3 linked regions of the Homo sapiens genome follow. The protein of the gene in region 3 interacts with the protein of the main gene of each other region in a pairwise test. Each region holds a gene or a part of one and is shown on either strand. Other genes may lie near its edges.

What was found. Proteins that work in one complex are often made in the same cells at the same time.
Region 1: the proteins of ERN1 (region 3) and ZNF341 interact in binary tests that used the Homo sapiens proteins (3 or more experiments, as listed by UniProt).
Region 2: the proteins of ERN1 (region 3) and GTF2A1 interact in binary tests that used the Homo sapiens proteins (3 or more experiments, as listed by UniProt).

Annotation. Positions count from the first base shown.
Region 1 is NC_000020.11:33,783,971-33,790,995, forward strand, and holds part of ZNF341 (zinc finger protein 341), read left to right. Parts: intron 1-3,402; exon of another isoform or gene 3,403-3,807; intron 3,808-4,892; coding exon 4,893-5,004; intron 5,005-5,547; coding exon 5,548-5,618; intron 5,619-7,017; coding exon 7,018-7,025. UniProt on the Homo sapiens protein: Transcriptional activator of STAT3 involved in the regulation of immune homeostasis. Also able to activate STAT1 transcription.
Region 2 is NC_000014.9:81,210,960-81,217,984, reverse strand, and holds part of GTF2A1 (transcription initiation factor IIA subunit 1), read left to right. Parts: intron 1-1,470; coding exon 1,471-1,572; intron 1,573-7,025. UniProt on the Homo sapiens protein: TFIIA is a component of the transcription machinery of RNA polymerase II and plays an important role in transcriptional activation. TFIIA in a complex with TBP mediates transcriptional activity.
Region 3 is NC_000017.11:64,050,144-64,057,168, reverse strand, and holds part of ERN1 (serine/threonine-protein kinase/endoribonuclease IRE1 precursor), read left to right. Parts: intron 1-1,220; coding exon 1,221-1,494; intron 1,495-2,340; coding exon 2,341-2,431; intron 2,432-2,729; coding exon 2,730-2,919; intron 2,920-3,797; coding exon 3,798-3,897; intron 3,898-4,189; coding exon 4,190-4,389; intron 4,390-7,025. UniProt on the Homo sapiens protein: Serine/threonine-protein kinase and endoribonuclease that acts as a key sensor for the endoplasmic reticulum unfolded protein response (UPR).

The DNA of each region.
Region 1 (7,025 bases), on a different chromosome or scaffold from region 3:
CTCCCTCAGCCCCTTTTCCCTCCACTTCTCCATCTCCCTCCCCATCTCACTCAGTCCCTCCCCTCATCTCTCTCAGCCCCCGTCTCCCTCCTCCTCCCCATCTCCCTCCTCCTCCCCATCTCCTTCCTCCTCCCCATCTCCCTCCAGCACCCTTCTCCCTCCTCTTCCCCATTTCCTTTCCCCTCTCCCTCTCCCTACTCCTCTCCCTCCCCCCTCCCTCCGCCTCCTCACCTCCCTCCCTCTCCCCATCTCCTTCCCCCTCCCCCATCTCCCTCCCTCTCTCCATCTCTCTCCCCCCCATCTCCCTCACCCTCCCCATCTCCCTCTTCTTCCCCATCTCCCTGCAGCCCCCTTCTCCCTCCTCCTTCCCATCTCCCTCTAGCCTCCCTTCCCCTCCCTCTCCCCATCTCCTTCTAGCCCCCTCCAGCCTCCCTCCCCTGTCCTCTCCCCTCTCCCTCCAGCCCCCTCCCCCTCCTCTCTGTCGCTGTCTGTCTCCCTCCAGCCCTCCTGCCTCTCCCCTTGCTCCTCCTTCCTCTCTCCTTCCTGGCCCCTGATCCACCTGCCTTAATTCATGAACAAGGGATTCCCACCACCGCTAAAGCAGAGAAGAGCCCCTGGAGGTTGTGTGGAAGGGACTTTTTATTCTTTTTTTTTTTTTCTTTGAGACAAAGTCTCGCTCTTGTTGCCCAGGCTGGAGTGCGGTGGCAGATCTTGGCTCACTGCAACCTCTGCCTCCCGGGTTCAAGTGATTCTCCTGCCTCAGCCTCCTGAGTAGCTGGGATTACAGGCTCCCACCACCATGTCCAGCTAGTTTTTTGTATTTTTAGTAGAAACAGGGTTTTGCCATGTTGGCCAGGCTGGTTTCGAACTCCTGACCTCAGGTGATCCTCCTGCCTCGGCCTCCCAAAGTGCTGGGATGACAGGCGTGAGGCACTGCACCCAGCCTGTGTGAGGGACTCTTGACTCTGCCCCCTGTGGTGGGGACACTGCTCTCACTGTAAGTTCCCACTCAAACCTGAACAAAACGCCATCTCCTTGGTTCCCCAGTTGAAACACACTGACATTTTCTTTTCTATTAATCTTTAGATTTTTTTATTAGTTAAATTTTTTAATTGCTTTTTAATTGAAAAGGATCTAAAGATTGAGAAAACTTGAGGGAAAATCCTTGACGGGACAAAAGCATATATAAAAAAATAAACTCCCTCTCACTTCAGATGGACAATCCAATGTTTTTCCTTTTTTTTCTTTCCTACGACCTATGGTAAAAAATACATTTCATATTGCAACCCAGGAAGCACACATAGGATGTATTGCAACAAAAGTTTTACAAAACAGTGTTTTCTATTTTGTCCTTTTCAATTTTAGTTTTTTTATTTTTTATTTTTATTTTGAGACAGGGTCTCACTCTGTCACCCAGGCTGGAGTGCAATGGTATGATCTCACTACAACCTCCGCCTCCCAGGTTCAAGCCATTCTCGTGCCTCAGCCTCCCGAGTAGCTGGGATTACAGGCGCCCACCACATGCCTGGCTAATTTCTGTATTTTCAGTAGAGACGGGGTTTCACCATGTTGGCCAAGATGGTCTCAAACTCCTGGCCTCAGGTTACCCACCCACCTTGGCCTCTCAAAGTGCTGGGATTACAGATGCAAGCCACCACACCCAGCCTATTTTTAATTCTTAAAATAACCACCAACAGGGTGTAACTTGTGGTTTGCAGTTTGCAAAATACTCCTAATTCTCTTCCCCAAAGGTAACTGTTAGCGGTCTAGTCTGCATTCTTCTAGTTTTATTTTACACATATATAAAACGCTTGCTTACGTTTGCAAAAATGAGCACATACTATAACTTATGTGCCTTTTTTTCCTTATCATATACCTTGGCGATGTTCCCCAAGGAATGTGTGCTTACAGTTCCCCTGGAGGCTAAATTCTGTGGGTCCCCCTCCCCCGGGCCCCCCCCAGAAGTTGTTACCAACAGCACCTTCTTTTTCACATCTGAGTAGTCTTCCTCAATGAATTTTTCATCTTGTATTTAGCCAGTTCTCTATGTATGAACCTTTTTTTTTTTTTTTTTTTTTTTTGAGACTGAATGGCACGATCTTGGTTCACTGCAACCTCTGCCGCCTGAGTTCAAGCAATTCTCCTGCCTTAGCCTTCCAAGTAGCTGGGATTACAGGTGTGCACCATCACGCCCAGCTAATTTTTGTATTTTTAGTAGATATGTGGTTTCACCATGTTGGCCAGGCTGGTCTCGAACTCCTGACCTCAAGTGATCCCCCCGCCCCAGCCTCCCAAAGTGCTGGGATTACAGGCATGAGCCATCACGCCCAGCCTATGTATGAACCGTTAAATTACATTTCAGCTATTAGTTTGTACACACAATGCTGTGTGGGTCCCTTGGCAAGCTTTTGGAAGTGTATCTGTAGTGTATATTCTTAGGAGTGGAAATGCTAGGTTAAAATGCATGTGTAATACTGAGTTTCAGTTTGGGATGATGAAAAAATTCTAGAGACAGATGATGGTGATGGTTGCATGATGGTGCAAATGTACTTATGCCACTGAACTATACACTTAAAAGAAGCTTAAGATGGTCAATTTTCTGTTATGTATATTTCTCCACAATAAAGAAGGGAAAAGAAGTAATGCATTGTAAGTTTGATATTACCAAATTGCTCTTTATGGCTTTTAAAAATTATTATTCAAAAGTAATACATGCTGCCAGGCGCGGTGGCTCATGCCTGTAATCTCAGCACTTTGGAAGGTGAAGGTGGGTGGAGCACCTAGGTCAAGAGTTTGAGACCAGCCTGGCCAACGTGATGAAACCCCGTCTCTACTAAAAATACAAAAATTAGCCGGGTGTGGTGGTACGCACCTGTGATCCCAGCTACTCAGGAGGCTGAGGCAGGAGAATTGCCTGAACCCAGGAGATGGAGGTTGCAGTGAGCCAAGATCAAACCACTGCACTCCAGCCTGGGCAACAGAGCAAGACTCTGTTTCAAAAAAAAAAAAAAAAATACAAAAAACGAAACAAAACAAAACAAAAAAAACCACACAAATAATACATGGTTATTATAAAAATGGAAACAATATAGGAGTACATAAAGTAAAATGTTAAATTTCCCCTTCAAGTTGTAGTTGCCACTGACACTTTGGTCTGTCCTTTCCCTACACCTCCCCATCTTTCTTCCTGCATCTTCAGTTTATTTACAGAGACACATGGCCAGGGCTTTTTTGGGGTGTGCAGGTTGTATTTTTTCTTTCTTTTTTTTTTGTTGGAGCTTACATATCCAGTAGGGATTATATTTTTTTCTAAGAAAGACGAGATTGTGTTAAGCTGTTCTACTGCTTTCTTTCCCCACTAGCAGTATGTCCAGGAGATCTTTCCAGATCAGGAAACACAGATTGACCTTTTTAATCTTTTTAATGACCACAGAGCATTCTATTGTAGGGACCAGCATTTCCGTATCGACTGGGTTGATGGTTTTTCAGAAGTACTTTATTCATTCCAGAGGGAGAACAGAGAGGAAATAATGGCAGGAAGTCACAGCAGCCCAGAAACAGCCCCTTCCAAAGGGCAGGCTGTGACCCCACGGCAACTTTGCAGGCACCTCCCTTGATTTCCTGTGGGTTCCTCAGGTAGCCCATCAGGCAAGAGCTGCCCCAGGACGGGTTTAACAGCAGGAAGATCTGGGTAGCTCAGATGGGCTCTGGATCACGCTGCTGGGCTGGAATCTTAGCTCCCGCAACCATAGGGGTAGCCCCTGAGCCAGTCCCTTCACCTCTCTGAACTTCAGTCTTCTTTCTTATCTGTGAAACAGGGATGATGGGAGTCAGTGCCTCCTGGTTTTTTGGAAGGATTCAGTTAGATAAGGTGTGATTCCTCGTCCCCCAGGGTGGACCGCATTGCCAGAAATGACATGAGGCCACCTTGCTTCTCAGGCCGTGCCTCATCCTTGACTCCTCTCCTCCTCTCACAGTCACAGCCAGTCCAGTGGCAAGGGCTGCCGACTGTGCCTTCCCAACATGGCTGTCCTGGGCCACTTCCTGGTTATCCTCACCTCCACCCTCATTCGAGCTGGTTAAAAGCTTACATCAGAGTCCATCCCTCTGCTGTTCAGACCTTCTGGTGCTTCTCTTCTGGCTCAGAGTAAAAGCCAAAGTCCTGGCTGGGCGCGGTGGCTCATGCCTGTAATCCCAGCACTTTGGGAGGCCAAGGCAGGTGGATCACTTGAGGTCAGGAGTTCGAGACCAGCCTGGCCAACATGGTGAAACCCCCCATCTCTACTAAAAATACAAAAATTAGCTGGGCGTGGTGGCACACACCTGTAATCCCATCTACTCAGGAGGCTGAGGTAGGAGGATTGCTTGAACCCAGAAGGCAGAGGTTGCAGTGACTCACCTGAAATCTTGCCACTGCACTCCAGCCTGGGTGACAGAGCAAGGCTCTGTCTCAAAAAAAATAAATAAATAAAAGCCAAGTCCTTAGCTCTGCCTCCCAGGTCCTCCCATGCGGACCTGGCTGGCTCGCTGCCCTCACCTTCTGCCTTGTTCTCTGGCCACACCAGCCTCCCTGTTGTTCATCAGCACCGCCAAACGCACTCCTGCCTCAGGGCCTTTGTACCTGCTTTCCCTGCTGCCCAGACCATCTCCCTGATGACCTGAGGTCTCTCCTCATGCATGGCCTCATCAGAGAGGCCTCTCCTGACCATCCTGTCAAAATAGCCCTGTCTTGTCTCTGGCAAAACAAAGCCACTGAAGAATGAGAGAGGCTATTTTCTCCCCTGGCCACCTCCCTAGAGGAGCTGCTCCCCTGAGGGGCCCAGCGGGGACCCTTGTGCCCTGGATGCCGACTCCTGGTGAGTGCTGGCTCTCCCTGTCTGTGTCTGCTGCAGGTGAGAAGCCCTACAAATGCTCAGTGTGCGAGTCTGCGTTCAACCGCAAGGACAAACTGAAGAGACACATGTTGATCCACGAGCCCTTCAAGAAATACAAATGCCCTTTCTCGTGAGTAGAGACTGCCATGCAGGGGGGTGGGTAGCGGGACAGATTCTCCAGGGGTGCTGCTGGGGAGGGTGGGACAGATGTCAGGCCTGAGGGCAGGCCTCTCCTTTTTTTTTTTTTTGGAGACATAGTCTCACTCTGTCATCCAGGCTGGAGTGCAGTGGTAAGATCTTGTCTCACTGCAACCTCTGCCTTCTGGGTTCAAGCGATTCTCTTGCCTCGGCTTCCCAAGTAGCTGAGATTACAGATTTAGTAGAGATGGAGTTTCGCCATGTTGCCTAGGCTGGTCTCGAGCTCCTGACCGCAAGTGATCCATCCACCTCGGCCTCCCAAAGTGCTGAGATTACAGGCGTGAGCCACTGTGCCTGGCCAGGCCTCTCTCCTTTTATCCTGTCCTGGGCCCTGCCTGCCTCACTTCCCACCCTACCTCCTTGCCCAGCCCTTAGGGTGGACAAGGCTGTCCCTTGTGCCCAGGGCTAGTGGAGGGGCCAGCAAGAGGATCCTAAGCTTGGTGAGCTCCCCCTGACCAGTGGCTTTGGGTTTTAGGACGCACACAGGCTGCAGTAAGGAGTTCAACCGGCCGGACAAGCTGAAGGCCCACATCCTCTCCCACTCTGGTAAGTGGCTCTTGGGCCTGCTAAGAGGGTCTGGTTCAGCTCTAGTTCACTGGGATAGACCCGCCAGGAAGAGAAAGAGCAGACATATCCTGTGAGGCTTGTTTTCCCTGCCTGGCACATTCCAGCCAGCACTTTCACTTATGTGGGCTATGAGCCAGGCCTGTGTTAGGGACTTAAGGGTGAACAGAGATGAATCAGACACAGTCCCCCAGTCCAAGGAGGAAGCTGACCTGAGCAGAGATGACTCAGTTGGAGCAGTGCCCAGTGTAATAGAGGTGTGGACGAGGTGTGGAGGGAATCAGATTCCAGCCAGGTCCAAGACATGGCCAGGAAGCTTCTTTGATAGGGCAGGGCAGGGGTCTCCAAGCCACTCCTCAGTTTCTCAGCGCCTCCTCAGAGCAGCCTGGCTGGCTTTCCACATGCCAGCCGAGGTCTAAAACAAGGTTCTTCAACCCTGGCACCATTGACAATTTGGGCCAGATAATTTTTTTTTTTTTTTTTTGAGACGGAGCCTCCCTCTGTCACCCAGGTGGAGTGCAGTGGTGTGATCTTGGCTCATTGCAACCTCTGCCTCCCAGGTTCAAGCGATTCTCTTGCCTCAGCTTCCCAAGTAGTTGGGATTACAGGTGCCTGCCACCACACCCAGCTAATTTTTGTATTTTTAGTAGACATGGGGTTTTCACCATGTTGGCTAGGCTGGTGTCGAACTCCTGACCTCAAGTGATCTGCCCGCCTTGGCCTCCCAAGGTGCTGGGATTACAGGTGTGAGCCACCGGCGCCTGGCCTGTAATCCTGTAGATAATTTTGTCCTGGGGGCTGTCCTGTGCCCTGTAGGATTTTTAGCAGTATCCCTGGCTTCTATCTACTGGTGTCAGTGGCATCCCCCCACAGTTGTGACAACCAAAAATGTCTCTAGGCATTGCTGAGTCCTCTGGGGGGTAAAGTCTCCCTTGTTTGAGAAGGTTTACAGAAAGGAGTCAGTCACTAAAGAAAGTGTGAAAACTGGGAGAGTAGGTCAATGACTTGGACACACAGGGCTGGGTTGGAGTCTTAGTGCTGCCATGTTCCTGTGGGTGGCCTCAGGCGTCACGGCCCCTCCCTGAGCCTGAGATGACCTGGCAAAGCGAGCCAAGGTGCAGAGAGTGAGCAGCTGTTCCAGGCAGAGGAGAATGGCAAGTACAAAGGCGCAGAGGGAGGAGCCAGCGTGGCATCTCTGAGGAGAGCGAGTGTGGCTGGCGCAGAGAGTGGCTGGAAGAAGGCAGACGACGAGGGTGGAGAGAGCTGGGGCCAGATCACACAGGTGCTGGTGGGGAAAGAGCCTGGATTTTATTCCCAGCGCAGGGCACTGTTGCGGGGTGAAGGTCTGGATGCTTCTCACTGACTTTCCCTTGCCCTCCAGGCATGAAG
Region 2 (7,025 bases), on a different chromosome or scaffold from region 3:
TATAGAAATGTGCATTTTACAGATGAATAAACTTCAAGAGGCGGATTTGGCAAAATAAAGCAGGTTAGTGAGTGAACAGTAAAGCAAGAACCCAGATATTTGAATTGGTTTTCTTGTAATGAGAAGGATTAAATAGTATTTAATGGTTGAGGTAAATTGTATTGACAAACTCATTTGTATTTGTTTGTTTTCTGAGACAGGGTCTGGGCCTGTCACCCAGGCTGGAGGGCAGTGGTGCAATCTTGGCTCACTGCACCCTCTCCCTCCTGGGCTCAAGCCATCCTCCCACCTCAGCCTCCCAAGCAGCTGGGACTACAGGCACGTGCCACCACTCCTGGCTAATTTTTTGTGGAGATTGGGTTTCACTATGTTACCCAGGCTGGTCTTGAACTCTTGAGCTCAAGCGATCCTCCCAAAATTGGTTTTATTTGATAGCGATTAACCTTAAGCAAGGTATGAAACAGAAGTAATGAGAAAACATCTAAAAAGCTTGTTAACCATAACCCTCTGATAATGGGGAGGATTTATAACCAGGCAACTCTAGTTTTGTCAAGGCAGCTCTAGTTTTGTCATCTGACATGACTTCCTTTTGTCTAACAGGTTAAAAATAGGATGTGGGGGAAAAAATAGGATGTGGATTGGGCTAATTGTTCTATCTCCCACTTTGTAGTTTTTAAAAAATATTTTATACTTTTTGAAAGTTCTTTCACATCTATTCTCATTTTACTCATTTTACCATTCAACCTTCTAGAAGCCAGCTTCTTTACTTCCCGCTCCTCCAAGTAGTATCAACGGTGCTAATTGTAATAATAATAGTAAACATTTAGAGGGTTCATGTTCATTATAATGTTTCATAGCATTACCTGGGCAGTAGTAGAGGAGAAATCCTGGGAAGGAAATCAGTATACCTTGTTCCTTGGGACCTTAAGACCTGCCATTGTGAGTGTATGAGTAGTTTAATGGTACAGCTTGAAAGTACAGACTGGGTCACACAACAGAAGTTAGGTGATTTTTAAACCTGAATGTTCATTAGGTTGCAGATTATTACCAGGCAGATGACTCCCGGACATAAGATTCTCCAAAGTCTAAGATACAGTGGTGAGGTAGTAAGACATACAACAGAGTTCAAACCAAGCATGGAATAGTAGAAGCCAGACATAAGCAACCCGTAAAGCTATTATTGAACATTACATTAGGTATTTTGACTACAACATAGGAAATTATAATTGGAAATTGTATGGACCTTGTAGTCTTAGGGGCCTTCTGTTTATGAACTGCATTAATCTTAAAATTTTTATTAAAGTGTGCAGTCATCAAATCCAGTTTATGGCAAATGATGGTGGTCGTATCTTTAAAGTCATATATAGATAGTTGGCAAAATGACTATTCGTTTTGAATTTGTGAAAACCTGTTATACATTATAAGCTGTGAAAAACTGTCTTTTTCAAGTCTTTTATTTTTCCTTTAAAGCCTAAATTATACAGATCTGTGATTGAAGATGTCATTAATGATGTGAGAGACATCTTTCTGGATGATGGAGTGGATGAACAAGTACTGATGGAACTAAAAACTGTGAGTTTGTCTTTTTTTTAAAATATTCCTACTTTTCCCCCACAAAACATTTTCTTTAGCCGGAGATGAATCTGTAATTTTTCTATAGGATGAACGTATAGTTGAGTGAAGTGTGCTGGTTTTAAATCCCAACTCTGCCATGCATTCTTCCTCTGACCTTAGGCAAGCTACATTTATATTTCAGTTTTCTTATACGTAAGATGGAAATTGGTAGTACTTACCTTATAGGTTTGTTTTGAGGATTAAATGGAATAACCATATAAAATCTTAGCACAATGCTTGATAGTAGCATTAGCAGTTATTATTGGATAGTTAACATTCTACATTTTATGGTCTAATTACTTGACATGTCTGGAAGAATTTTGTTGCTTTCTTTTTTCGTTTTTTATTTTTGAGACAGGGTCGGGCTCTGTCGCCCAGGCTGGAGTGCAGTGGCACAATCTGGACTTACTGCAACCTCTGCCTCCCAGACTCAAACCATCCTCCCACCCCTGGGACTACAGGCACATGCCAGCATGCCTGGCTAATTTTTGTATTTTTGGTAGAGATGGTTTTCACCATGTTGTCAAGGCTGCTTTCGAACTCCTGGCTGCAAGTGATCCTCCCGCCTCGGCCTCCCAAAGTGATAGGATTATGGGTGTGAGCCACAGCGCCCAGCCTTAATCTTATCTTTTTTTAATGGTCTTAATGTACCTGTATTCTAAAGTGTGTTTTAAGTTGTAGGGATTAAGTGCTTGATAAAAGAATTTTAGGTTCTTGAAGTAGACCCTTTATGTAGGCCGAATGTTTTGAATATATTTTACATTGAGAGCTGGTTTTCTGTATCTTGGATTCAAGTGGAAATATTTAGATTTTTTTTATTAGCAGTTGTGTTTTCCTTGCATTGTAATGACTCATGAAATTGTGGAATATTTTTGCCCTGTTGATTAGAATAGTGGTTCTCAAGGTATAGTTCATGGAGCCCTGGATTCTCCCCAAGGGTTCTTTCAGGGGGTCCACAAGGTTGACTAAATGCTTAAGTCTGGAAAATCATAGTTTGCCCGTCATTCTTTCAAGTAAAAGTTGTATTCTGTGAGAAAAGTGACCAGTTAAATTCACAATTCAAGTGCACAGGTGCTTTTCCTTGAGATAACTGTAAATAAGCAGCAGAAATGCTTTATGTATACTTCTCATTTCTGACAAACTGAATATTAAAAAGATGAGGACTCAATGTTGATATTAAGAAATTTGATTGTTTGATATTCCGTAATGAAGTGTGTTTACAGTTGAAAGATCCATATAATTCACTGAACTTGTATTTTCTGAATATCCAATGCATAATGTTGGAAAATTCATTCAAAATGCAAGATAAATTAATGGACTTTAAAAGTATGAAAAGTTCACAGTTATATGGTTTCATATTCTGCATTGTAACTAACTATTAAGAAACTGTCACTTAAAAGTACCTTTTCTTTTCCCAACTACTTAATTGTAGGAAGGCAGATTTTCTTTGTACACCTCCACCAAAACAAAGCAAAAACAGGGTCAGATACGAGAATCTAGCTATTTTCCTTTAAGTCATTTGTCATTCTCACTCAATTTTATTTACTAAAATATGGCTATTTTCAGAAAAATGTTATTTATGTTAACATATAATGGATCCATTATTTCTAAACAAATTAGTGAAAATTAAAAATTTGTTATAATTTCTATTAGTATAAATATAGGTGGATGTAATTCACATACAGAAAAGCTCTTTGAGGGTCTCAGTAATTTTTTTTTTTTTTTGAGACGGAGTTTCGCTCTGTCACCCAGGCTGGAGTGCAGTGGTGCTATCTTGGCTCACTGCAAGCTTTGCCTCCCTGGTTCATGCCATTCTCCTGCCTCAGCCTCCCAAGTAGCTGGGACTACAGGCGCCCGCCACGACGCCTGGCTAATTTTTTTGTATTTTTAGTAGAGATGGGGTTTCACCGTGTTAGCCAGGATGGTCTCGATCTCCTGACCTTGTGATCCCCCCACCTCGGCCTCCCAAAGTGCTGGGATTACAGACATGAGCCACCGCTCCCGGCCGGGTCTCAGTAATTTGATAAATCGTCCTGAGATGAAAGAGTTTTAGAACTGCTGGTTTAGAAGTTGATTATTAGGCTCCTTTAAATCTATGTACAAATAAATAATCACAGTTAATAAATGTTAAGGAACATTTGTTGTGGTCTCATCCATTCAGCATAGGTGTCGAGGCTGCAACTTGGCAACCAGTTGCAAATCTTACCTTGATTGCGGTGATGAGGTAGGTCTTGGCGTATTTATTAATAGGTATCTACAGGAAACTTCTCTAGAATTTTCAATAAGAATATTCCTGTGTGAGGAGTTTGAGACCAGCCTGGCCAACATGGTGAAACCCTATGTCTACTAAAAATACAAAAATTAGCTGGGCATGGTGGTGCGTGCCTGTAATCCCAGCTACTGGGGAGGCTGAGGCAGGAGAATGGCTTGAACCCAGGAGGCGGGGGTTGCAGTGAGCCGAGATCATGCCACTACACTGCAGCCTGGGTGACAGATCAAGACTCTGTCTCAAAAAAAAAAAAAACAGAAAAACCCAAAAATATTTCCTGTGTGAGGTAGGAAAAATATATAGGTGTGAAACAGATGAGCAAATATTTATTTACCTTGAGAAAAATTACAGGTTACTAATAGTGAAGAGTAGGTATCTAAAAATACAAGTGTAAGAGTGCTAATTCCGAGACATGAGTTGGAAGAAGAACAATATAAATTGTTCAAGTAGCATGAAGTAACTGAGGGATGTGAATAATAAGAAAACAAGCTTCTTTTGATTCCTTAGTGTAACGTGGAATGAGTTTTTTGCAATTTATGTTATACTTTTATAATGGTTGTCCTTGTAGTTTTGTGACCTTGTATAGAAGATGCAGCATTTTTAGGTGTAGAAAATCAGTTCTAAAGATGTTAGGTAATTTTCTCTAGGTCAAACTAGTGGTCAGTCTAGATTGTTATCTACTCTCGCTTTTCACAATGAAAATCTGGAGAATTTTCCCTATCGTTAATAGTAGAATCAAGACATTCTCTCGAAGAGAATGAGCATCTTTGAGACCAAATGTTTCCACCTCCATTTTTGTTATATATGACTTTTTTAGTACATATTTTATAGGTAACACACTGATTTTTAGTTTAATGGTTAGTTTTTAAATGACAAAAAATGTGACCTACTCAATTTTGAATCCCCAGCTTCTACCACGATGTCTGGGCATATGTGGTTGGCATTCAGTAAGTATTTGATTGAAGTGTTTGATAATAGATACGGCACCTGAATCTAACTGAACAAAATAGTGTAATATTCTTGTTGTTTTTAAATGGGCCATACTCTTCTATCTGGGTTGTATTGGAGTTAAAAATAAAACGGTTAGACTAAAATGAGTTTGTTATTTTAATTCTCTGCACTGAATTTCTTCAGGATCTCATTAGAATTTCTAGAATATGCCCTAGATTTAACAGCTGGACAGCCAGCATTGTCCAATAGAACTTTCTGCAGTGATGAAAGTGTTCTGTACCTGTGCTCTTCAGTATGGTAGCCACTAGCCACATGTGCTTATTAAGCACTCAAAATGTGGTTGGTGGAACTGAGGAACTGAATTTTTATTAATCTAAACTTAAATCACTACATATGGCTAGTTGCTGCCATATTGGACTGCTCAGGTTTAGACATTCTTGCTTAATAAAACGAACTTTAATTTCATATTTTATGGTTTAGAAAGCCTGTCATTAGCTCTAGCCCCTCTCCCTACTTTCTGGGGCCATTTTACAAACTTATCAAAAGCTTGTATAAGGCTGTAAAGGAGGCAGTGGTGAATTAGATTGAGAACAAAGATGAATGATGAGAATGCATGTAATTTGAGGGTTAATGAGGTAAGCAGAAAGGGAGATGATAAGAATATTTCAACCCAATCTTTGAGGTTATCTTTTGAAACACTGCAGGCCTACTTTAATGTGTAAACTGTGAGAGGTAGAAAAAACACAATAAAATACAGCCCTGGTTTTCAGTAAATCTATATTCGAATGTAAATGTGTTTTGGATTGGTGAGTGTCTGTGGGTGGGAATGACACTGTAGAAATTCTCTTCAAAGTGAATGATAAAATCAACCTGATTTCTAGATTTTCCAACCTACCTATGTCCAAATGTCAAGTACTGTGGGAGATATAAAACATTTTCTCTCTTTTTAATAAAACAAATGAGAAGAGTTGCCTCAATTGGAAGTATATCTGAAATTCAGTTTATCTGCCTCTGGTTCAGATTTCTCAACACTGGCATTATTGACATTTTGCACTGGTTAATTCTTTGTTGCAGGGGCTGTCCTATTGATTGTAGAATGTTAGCAGCACAACTGGCCTCTGCCCACTAGATGCCAGTAGCACTCTTCAGTTGTAACCAAAAATGTCTCTAGACATTGCCAGATGTCGCCGGGGGCCAAAATCACCTCTGGCTGAGAACCACTATTCTAAATATACTCTAGTTATATATATATATATATATATATATATATATATAAAGTACTTGATACACTCTAATTATGTGTAAATATTTGGACCATAAGTTGAATAATAATCTACTATTTCATTTCATTTATTCTTAGGGAAAGCTCTGTTTCTACAGCATTATTTCTTGGGAACCTAGAAGTGTAATATATTTTATCCAGGAGCTAGATGTTTTGTGAAAGTAGGAGAATCCTTCAGAATTTCTAGCCCACCATGTTGCCAGGTTTAGCCACCTAACCTCTGGGCTTGTGATGTGACGGGCTGCAGTGAAGGTCTCTGATGTGGCCTGGAGACATTTTCTCCATGGTCTTGGGGATTAACAGTAGGGGAGTGATAAGGGGATTAACTTGGGGAGCAGTAGGTCTCATCACATTTTATAGGTGAGAAAGTAGACTTGGAATGTGCTTTGACAAGGTCGTTTAGCTAATAAATGGTAGAGCCATGAACCTAGCCCTTTTGCCTCTATGTGACATATACAGTACTTAGCAGTAAGCAGGAAGGTAACAGAGTTTTGACTAGATCTTGGGTTGTTGGTGAATGGCACCTGAGATGGTTTTGATGGTCGGTGACCTGCTCTGATAGCAGCAGTCTAGTTTAGAGACTAGGAATTTGGACTAGTACTGGGATTAAAGGGAGGCAAGTGAGGGTCCTGGGGTACAGAATGCAGAGACATTCACTCTCTAGCCCTGACTGGGACATTGAAGTCAGACCACCTGGGTTATATCCCTATTCTGTCTGCCATTAGAGTGATCTTGAATAAGCTACCTAACTTCTTTCTTGTCAGATTCTTTTTCTGTAAAAGGGAGATAATAATGTCTATCTTATAGGATTTTTGTGAAAAAACTAGTTTGTACATGTATTTATAAAGTACACAGAATTTAGTAAGTTTTAGTTATTAGTCAACACAATATACAAATGTATACCTGAAT
Region 3 (7,025 bases):
CTTAAAAACTGCCATTAGAACTTCTGCTGGGGAGAAGAACCAAAAAAAGAAAAAAGAAGCTGCCTGTGAGATCAGCTTGTGTGAAAAAGGCAGTGTGGCCATCCCTTTACTTCCTAGTTGGAAATGAGCAAGTTCTGTAGCAGAACAGGCCATGGGTGGGATGAAATATGTGAGGGGCATGGTCCTTCAGCAGGTTGCTCAGAGCATCGAGATGCTGTTACCTGAGAGCTCAGGAAGCTAATGACCCGCCCAGGAATGGGAATGACAGACTCTTTATGGCACTCCCCACTGGCACGTCTGCACCTGATAGTTTCACTTTTCACCTCACTCAGTCCTATGAGGTCATTATTATTGATCCCTTGTCCACAAAAGAAGGAAGTAGACCCTGAGAAGCTAAGTAACTTTCCCCACGGGTACCCAGCTAGTAGACGGCATTTCTAGGACTCCACCCCATGGTGGAGAGAAGAAGAGACGACTCCCTGGTGGGTTGGTGGCTCACAGAAGTCCCTTCAGTCCACCTCCTGCACATGGGTAGGGATGATCACAGATCGCTGCTACTTCAGATAATGACAGAATGAATCCTTCAGAGTATTTGAGAGGCATGTGGCCTCGGGGAAGGCAGTGGGATGAAAGGCGGAAGCAGGACCTCAGCCAGGCTCACCATGTGTCAGCCCCACTGCCACCTCCTGGCTATGTGTATGCAGATGTACTCTGCATACCTAGAATACTAGAGCTTCCTCACCTGCCCCTCTGGATTACTGAGTGTCTGTGCGCTAGCCTCTAGCCAACACACAGACACGGTGGGTGGCGAACCTGGGGCTTGCTCTCACCCACCACTGGCTCAGCCATGCTACCTGTGCTTCCTGTTTGGTTTCACCTTTGCAACAACTCTCAGACTTTCATGAAAATCACAGAATTTTAGAACTGAATGAAACTGGCACAGCCCTCAACCTAGGGCACAGTCCCTCCCCTGGTGGCCATCCAGCCCCTCCTAGGGTTGGGGAGTGGGCTGTATGAGCAAGGATCTAACTAGTCGGTGGAAAGACGTCCAGTCATCGAAGCAATTCTGCTTCCAGGTGCCTTCTCACTGGTCTCTTTGTGCCCTGTTGGGTCACATAAAGTACACATGCTCCCTCCGCCACTGGGACCTGTCCCTTCCCAGCTGCTTGTTTCCCTGTGGGAACAGCTGCCCTTGTCTGGATGTGGGTTTCTCTTCCCAGAGCATGCATCAGCAGCAGCAGCTCCAGCACCAGCAGTTCCAGAAGGAACTGGAGAAGATCCAGCTCCTGCAGCAGCAGCAGCAGCAGCTGCCCTTCCACCCACCTGGAGACACGGCTCAGGACGGCGAGCTCCTGGACACGTCTGGCCCGTACTCAGAGAGCTCGGGCACCAGCAGCCCCAGCACGTCCCCCAGGGCCTCCAACCACTCGCTCTGCTCCGGCAGCTCTGCCTCCAAGGCTGGCAGCAGCCCCTCCCTGGAACAAGACGATGGAGGTAAAGCCAGTTGCCATCTTGGTGCTATTTTATGTTTTATTCGAGCACCTCCTGAGAAGTCCAAGGAGTCTCCATAAGATTGTAAACTACCATTCTCAGGGGTTCACTGTGTTCTCCTCTAACTTCCACTCTGGGGGTCTCTGTGGGAAGGCTTCTGCCCCATCCCTTGGCATCTCCCCTTCAGAGGGCCTTCTGGGAACCACCCTGGCCATCCTCCTGTCTTTCTCCACAAGGGCTGGGCGTCGCGGCTGACCAGAGGTGAGCTGCCCATTGGGCTGAAGAGAGTTCCCAGGGCCAGCCGGTGGCCAAGTGTGGAAGTGTCACAGTTGGTCTGCTTTCCTCTGTGGAAGTTGGCTCAAGCCAGTTGTCAGAGCCCCAATTCTGAGGGAACTGGCACAGAGCTGGTGCAGGGAACTCAGAGCCCTCTGTCCCAAGGAGTCTCCTCGTTTTACATGTCCATTGCCGCCACCTGAATGCTTCAGTGCGGATCTTTACAGTGGACTTTGTGGTGGTTGTTAACTATTAAACCATTCTAACTATATCACAATGAATATGTATAAGTGTGTGAAACGCTATGGAGAATCCCTGCCTTCCAGAAGGTTTTAAGATATGCAATCGCACAATAAGGTAAAGGCGGAGACAGAATGCAGGGGCAGGGGGAAGAGGCAGTCCTGGGTGTACATGGGGAGTGGGCCTGGCAGGCTCTTGCTGAGCAGCAGTCTGGGGTGCAGTGCCTCTTAAATCCCATCTTTTAATCTGAGGTCAGGAAGCTTGTCACTATGTTAACCTCAAGGTTCTTTAGGTGATATCTGTTTGAAACAATCTCTTTTTCCTATTTTGTCCCAGATGAGGAAACCAGCGTGGTGATAGTTGGGAAAATTTCCTTCTGTCCCAAGGATGTCCTGGGCCATGGAGCTGAGGGCACAATTGTGTACCGGTGAGTGGATTAGCCAGCCCCCTGCCCTCACCGCCTGGTGTCTAAGTGCCTGTCAGGTTGCGAGCCTGGTGCCAGGCTCAGAGCACAGCAGGGTCAAAGCAGTGACCTAGACGCATGGAGTCCGGCCTCCAGGGAGCTTGCACACTGAGACAAGCGATGATTCCGGGGCCACCAGGCAGTCAGGCGGGGCTCTCTAGGCTGGGAGGCAGTAGGTGAATGCTGTGGACCCAGGTTCTCACCTCATTTACACAGCCTGACTCGTGCTTCCCAGACACAACTCCCACTCCTCATCCCGCAGGGGCATGTTTGACAACCGCGACGTGGCCGTGAAGAGGATCCTCCCCGAGTGTTTTAGCTTCGCAGACCGTGAGGTCCAGCTGTTGCGAGAATCGGATGAGCACCCGAACGTGATCCGCTACTTCTGCACGGAGAAGGACCGGCAATTCCAGTACATTGCCATCGAGCTGTGTGCAGCCACCCTGCAAGAGGTGGATTTATTTTTTTTATTTTGTTAACTTTATTAAAGTCATAGCACTTTGGGAGGCCAAAGTGAGCAGATCACGTGAGCTCAGGAGTTTGAGACCAGCCTGGACAACATGGTGAAACCCCATCTCTACAAAGAAACCAAAAATTAGCCAGGCCTAGCGATGTGTTCCTGTAGCCCCAGCTACTTGGGAGGCTGAGGTGGGAAGATTGCTTGAGCCTGGGAGATCAAGGCTGCAGTAAGCAGTGATTGTGCCACTGCACTCCAGCCTGGACAACAGAGTGAGACCCCGTCAAATTAAAAAAAAGTTACAGTGAATTGTACTAATTTTAAATGTAATAGCTTGATGAATTTTGACAAATGTCTATACCCATTTAACCACATACACAGTCAAAATGTGGAGCATTTTTATCCCTCTGGTTGTAACAGGGTGGTCCCCCCAGCATGCCTGGGCAGTCTGCTTGCAGTTGGCATGTCTCTCCCTCTTTGCCTCCAGGAAACCTGGACAGTTGTTCTTTCCCTCTTCAGTCATGGCTGGTGTGGGCTTGGAGGATGCCAGTTGGTAACTCCAGGCTTTAAGATCATCCAGCAAGCTCCTTTTGCTCATTTTCCAGGCTCACTTTGAAACCATATCAGTATCATTTGGATTCCTTTGTAGGTTTACTTATATGAGGCAATGAACTTGAGTTTCTTGCCTTCTTATCTTTCTCATTGTAAATTAGTAGATTTGGAGGTTTGCTCCTTGCTGGAAAACATGGATTTAGACAGAATGTTGTCAGTAAAACTTGCCATTTCTTTCTTAAAATGGTATCAAAGAAAGTGAGCCGAGGGGCCAAGTCCTGAGGACTGTGTGCCGTGACCTTGCTGTCATGTCTTTTGCAGTATGTGGAGCAGAAGGACTTTGCGCATCTCGGCCTGGAGCCCATCACCTTGCTGCAGCAGACCACCTCGGGCCTGGCCCACCTCCACTCCCTCAACATCGGTGAGAGGCTGCACTTTACCAGGCCAGCGGCCCGGGTGGGGAGAATCAGTGGCCCAGGTGGGGCTAACCAGTAGCTCGGGTGGGCCTTGCTTCTGTTCAAGCTCTTGGCTATATCACCAGTAGCAAAGATGAGTGGTGTAAGAATTTGAGGAGGAATCCGACATAGTTGAAAATCAGAACATTTGGAGGTGGCGGCAGGCATATTGGGAGTCTGACGAGGACACATTCCCCATTGGAGGAGGCCTGGGGTTGCTCCTGGTAAGCATTGGACTAATCTGGAGTTCTCTGTTAGTTCACAGAGACCTAAAGCCACACAACATCCTCATATCCATGCCCAATGCACACGGCAAGATCAAGGCCATGATCTCCGACTTTGGCCTCTGCAAGAAGCTGGCAGTGGGCAGACACAGTTTCAGCCGCCGATCTGGGGTGCCTGGCACAGAAGGCTGGATCGCTCCAGAGATGCTGAGCGAAGACTGTAAGGAGAACCCTGTGAGTAATAGGCTATGGCCCTTTGAAAACTACAGAACCAGCCCATTGTATCTTCAGGAGTAGAACCTTTAAATTCCAGGTTTGGGGGCTGGTGCCCGTGTAGCTGGAGAATGGCATTCCTTTCACCAAGAGCTTCTGTGTGAACATTCTGTGTCATCTCATGTTCAGCTGATTAAAGGGGCAAATGTGGGCAATTATCTATTTTTTTTCCCTATTCTTCCAATCACTTGTTTTTTTTTTTTGTTTGGTTGGTTGGCTGTTTTTTTGTTTTTTTTGTGTGACAGAGTCTTACTGTCACCCAGGCTGGAGTGTAGTGGCATGATCTCAGCTCACTGCAATCTCCACCTCCCAGGTTCAAGCGATTCTCCTGCTTCAGCCTCCTGAGTAGCTAGGATTACAGGTACCTGCCACCACACCCAGCTAAATCAATCACTTTTTAACCCCTTTTTAATTTTGGTAAACTGGGAAGTCAGGGCTTGCTTAGCGTGAGCAAACTTCAAGTTTTCATTATTTTTAAAATTTTGTTTTTGTTTTCTCAACTTATTTTGATAATTTTTAGACATAGAGAAAATTAAAAGAAAAAAATTTTTTAGAAGTGCGATCTCGCTATTTTGCCCAGGCTGGTCTTGAACTCCTGGGCTCAGGCTTAGCCTCCCAAAGTGCTGGGATTGCAGACATGAGCCACAGCATCTGGCTGAAAGAATGTTAACATGAATACCTGTGTATCTCCACCTAGATTCAACATTTGTTAATACTTTTGCCACATTTGCTTTATCTTTACCTATTACTGAACCATTTGAATATAAGTAGCAGGCATCCTGGCCCTTCATCCCTGAAGACCTCAGCACGTGTCTCCTAAGGAATACATTGTGTTTCCAACCACAATACCATTATCCCACCTCAACAGTTAATACTGTTTCTATCCATCATCTCATATTCAATCCATATTCAAATTTCCCCAATTAGTCCCCAAATGTCTTTTATAGAGTTGGTATTTTGCTACCTACTGGGTTTTGATACCTACTGGGTTTTATATACCAGGATGGAATCAGGTGTCTTGCGTTACATTTGATTCTGTCTCTTGGAATTTACAAATCTTTCCACCTATATTTTGTTCCATGTTGAAGTTCCATTTTGAAGAGTCCAGGCAGTGGGTTATAGGATGCCCCATTCTGGTTTGTTTGCTTTTTTCCTCATGACAGCGTTGAACATTTCTCTGTATTCCTTGTATTTCCTGGAAACCAGAAGTTAGGTGGAGAGGCTTGATTAGGTTCAAGTTAAATGTTTTTGGCACGAATGTTTTTGGCAGGTCTCTACATCAGAAAGCATGTGATGGCAGATTGTATCTGTAAGATTATTATCACCTCCTCTTAGTGATGCTACAGCTGATCTCTCTACCATAAGGGTTCATTTCCTCCTCTCTTGTTAGTATTTGGGGTGATACTTCAGCACAATGTGAATATCCTGTTTACTGACAGTCACTCACCCAGTGGTTTAGCATGTGTTGATCACCCTTGCCTGAAGTACTCAGTTGAGTAGAAATTCTTCTACATTGTTAGCTGACATTTTTCTGTAAAGCAGAGCTTTCTTTTCACTTTCTTCTCTCTCTCTTTTTTTTTTTTCTTAATCGCTATGGGCTCAAGGATTTTGAAACTAATGTTATAATCCATTTTAGTCCTTTTTTTGTTATTTACTTCTTTTGATACACAAATTGTTCCAAATTTGGCCAACCTGGAAACCCCTTCAAGCTGGCTTCTGCATCCATTTGCTGGGAGCGCACTCACACTTGAGCACCTTATTCTAGCACAAGTCGCCGAGGCTCACCTTGGACACTCCCCGATGGAGACCTGGGTGGGTCAGTCATCTTGAGTGGATTAGATATGGCTGCCTCTTATCCAGCTCACTGGGGACCAGCAGCTGGTCAGATCATCAAAGAAGTCAGTTACAGCGAAGAATCATAAAAACACGCACGCACGCCGTAACACTTAATTTTAACTTAAAGCAAGTAATATTAGCCCTTAAGTCATAGAAATCTTGTGCTGTAGGCTAAGGTCTTTTCAGATTTGGGTCTGACTGACTGGAGTCCTCATTTTCCCCCTTGCATTAAGCACACTTCTGTACCACTTCTGTGACTTCTGCATGGAGGCTTGGACACTTCAAACACTTCCTAAGCGATTTGAGAGCAGAAGCCTGGTTTTTAACGCTTCATGACCCAGTCCCTTACGGTTGAATCCACCACACCAAATGCCGCAGCAGCTCTTGTAACCATTCCCTTTCCTTTATCGAGTCTTTCTAAAGATTCAGCTTACCTCAGACTTCGTGGCACTCATGTTTAACAGCTTATGGAATATCCAAATTACAAGGACAAGTGGCAATAATAAGTTTGGGAAAGAACATAATTGGGGCCAGGCAGGTAGGAAAGATGCCTCTTCACCTTAGTGTTGTCTGTGCTGGGGACAGCAGGCTGCAGAGAGTGTGGGGGGCGTGAAAGACCCAGAGAGCTCTGGGAGTCAGGGGCGAGCTCCAGCTGTGGTGGCCATGTTCCTCCTGTCCCGAATCCAGCACCTTCCTAAGGGAAAATCCAGTGAGGTAGAATAAAGCATGGTAGGTTTGGAGATTGGAAGACCTGAGTCCCA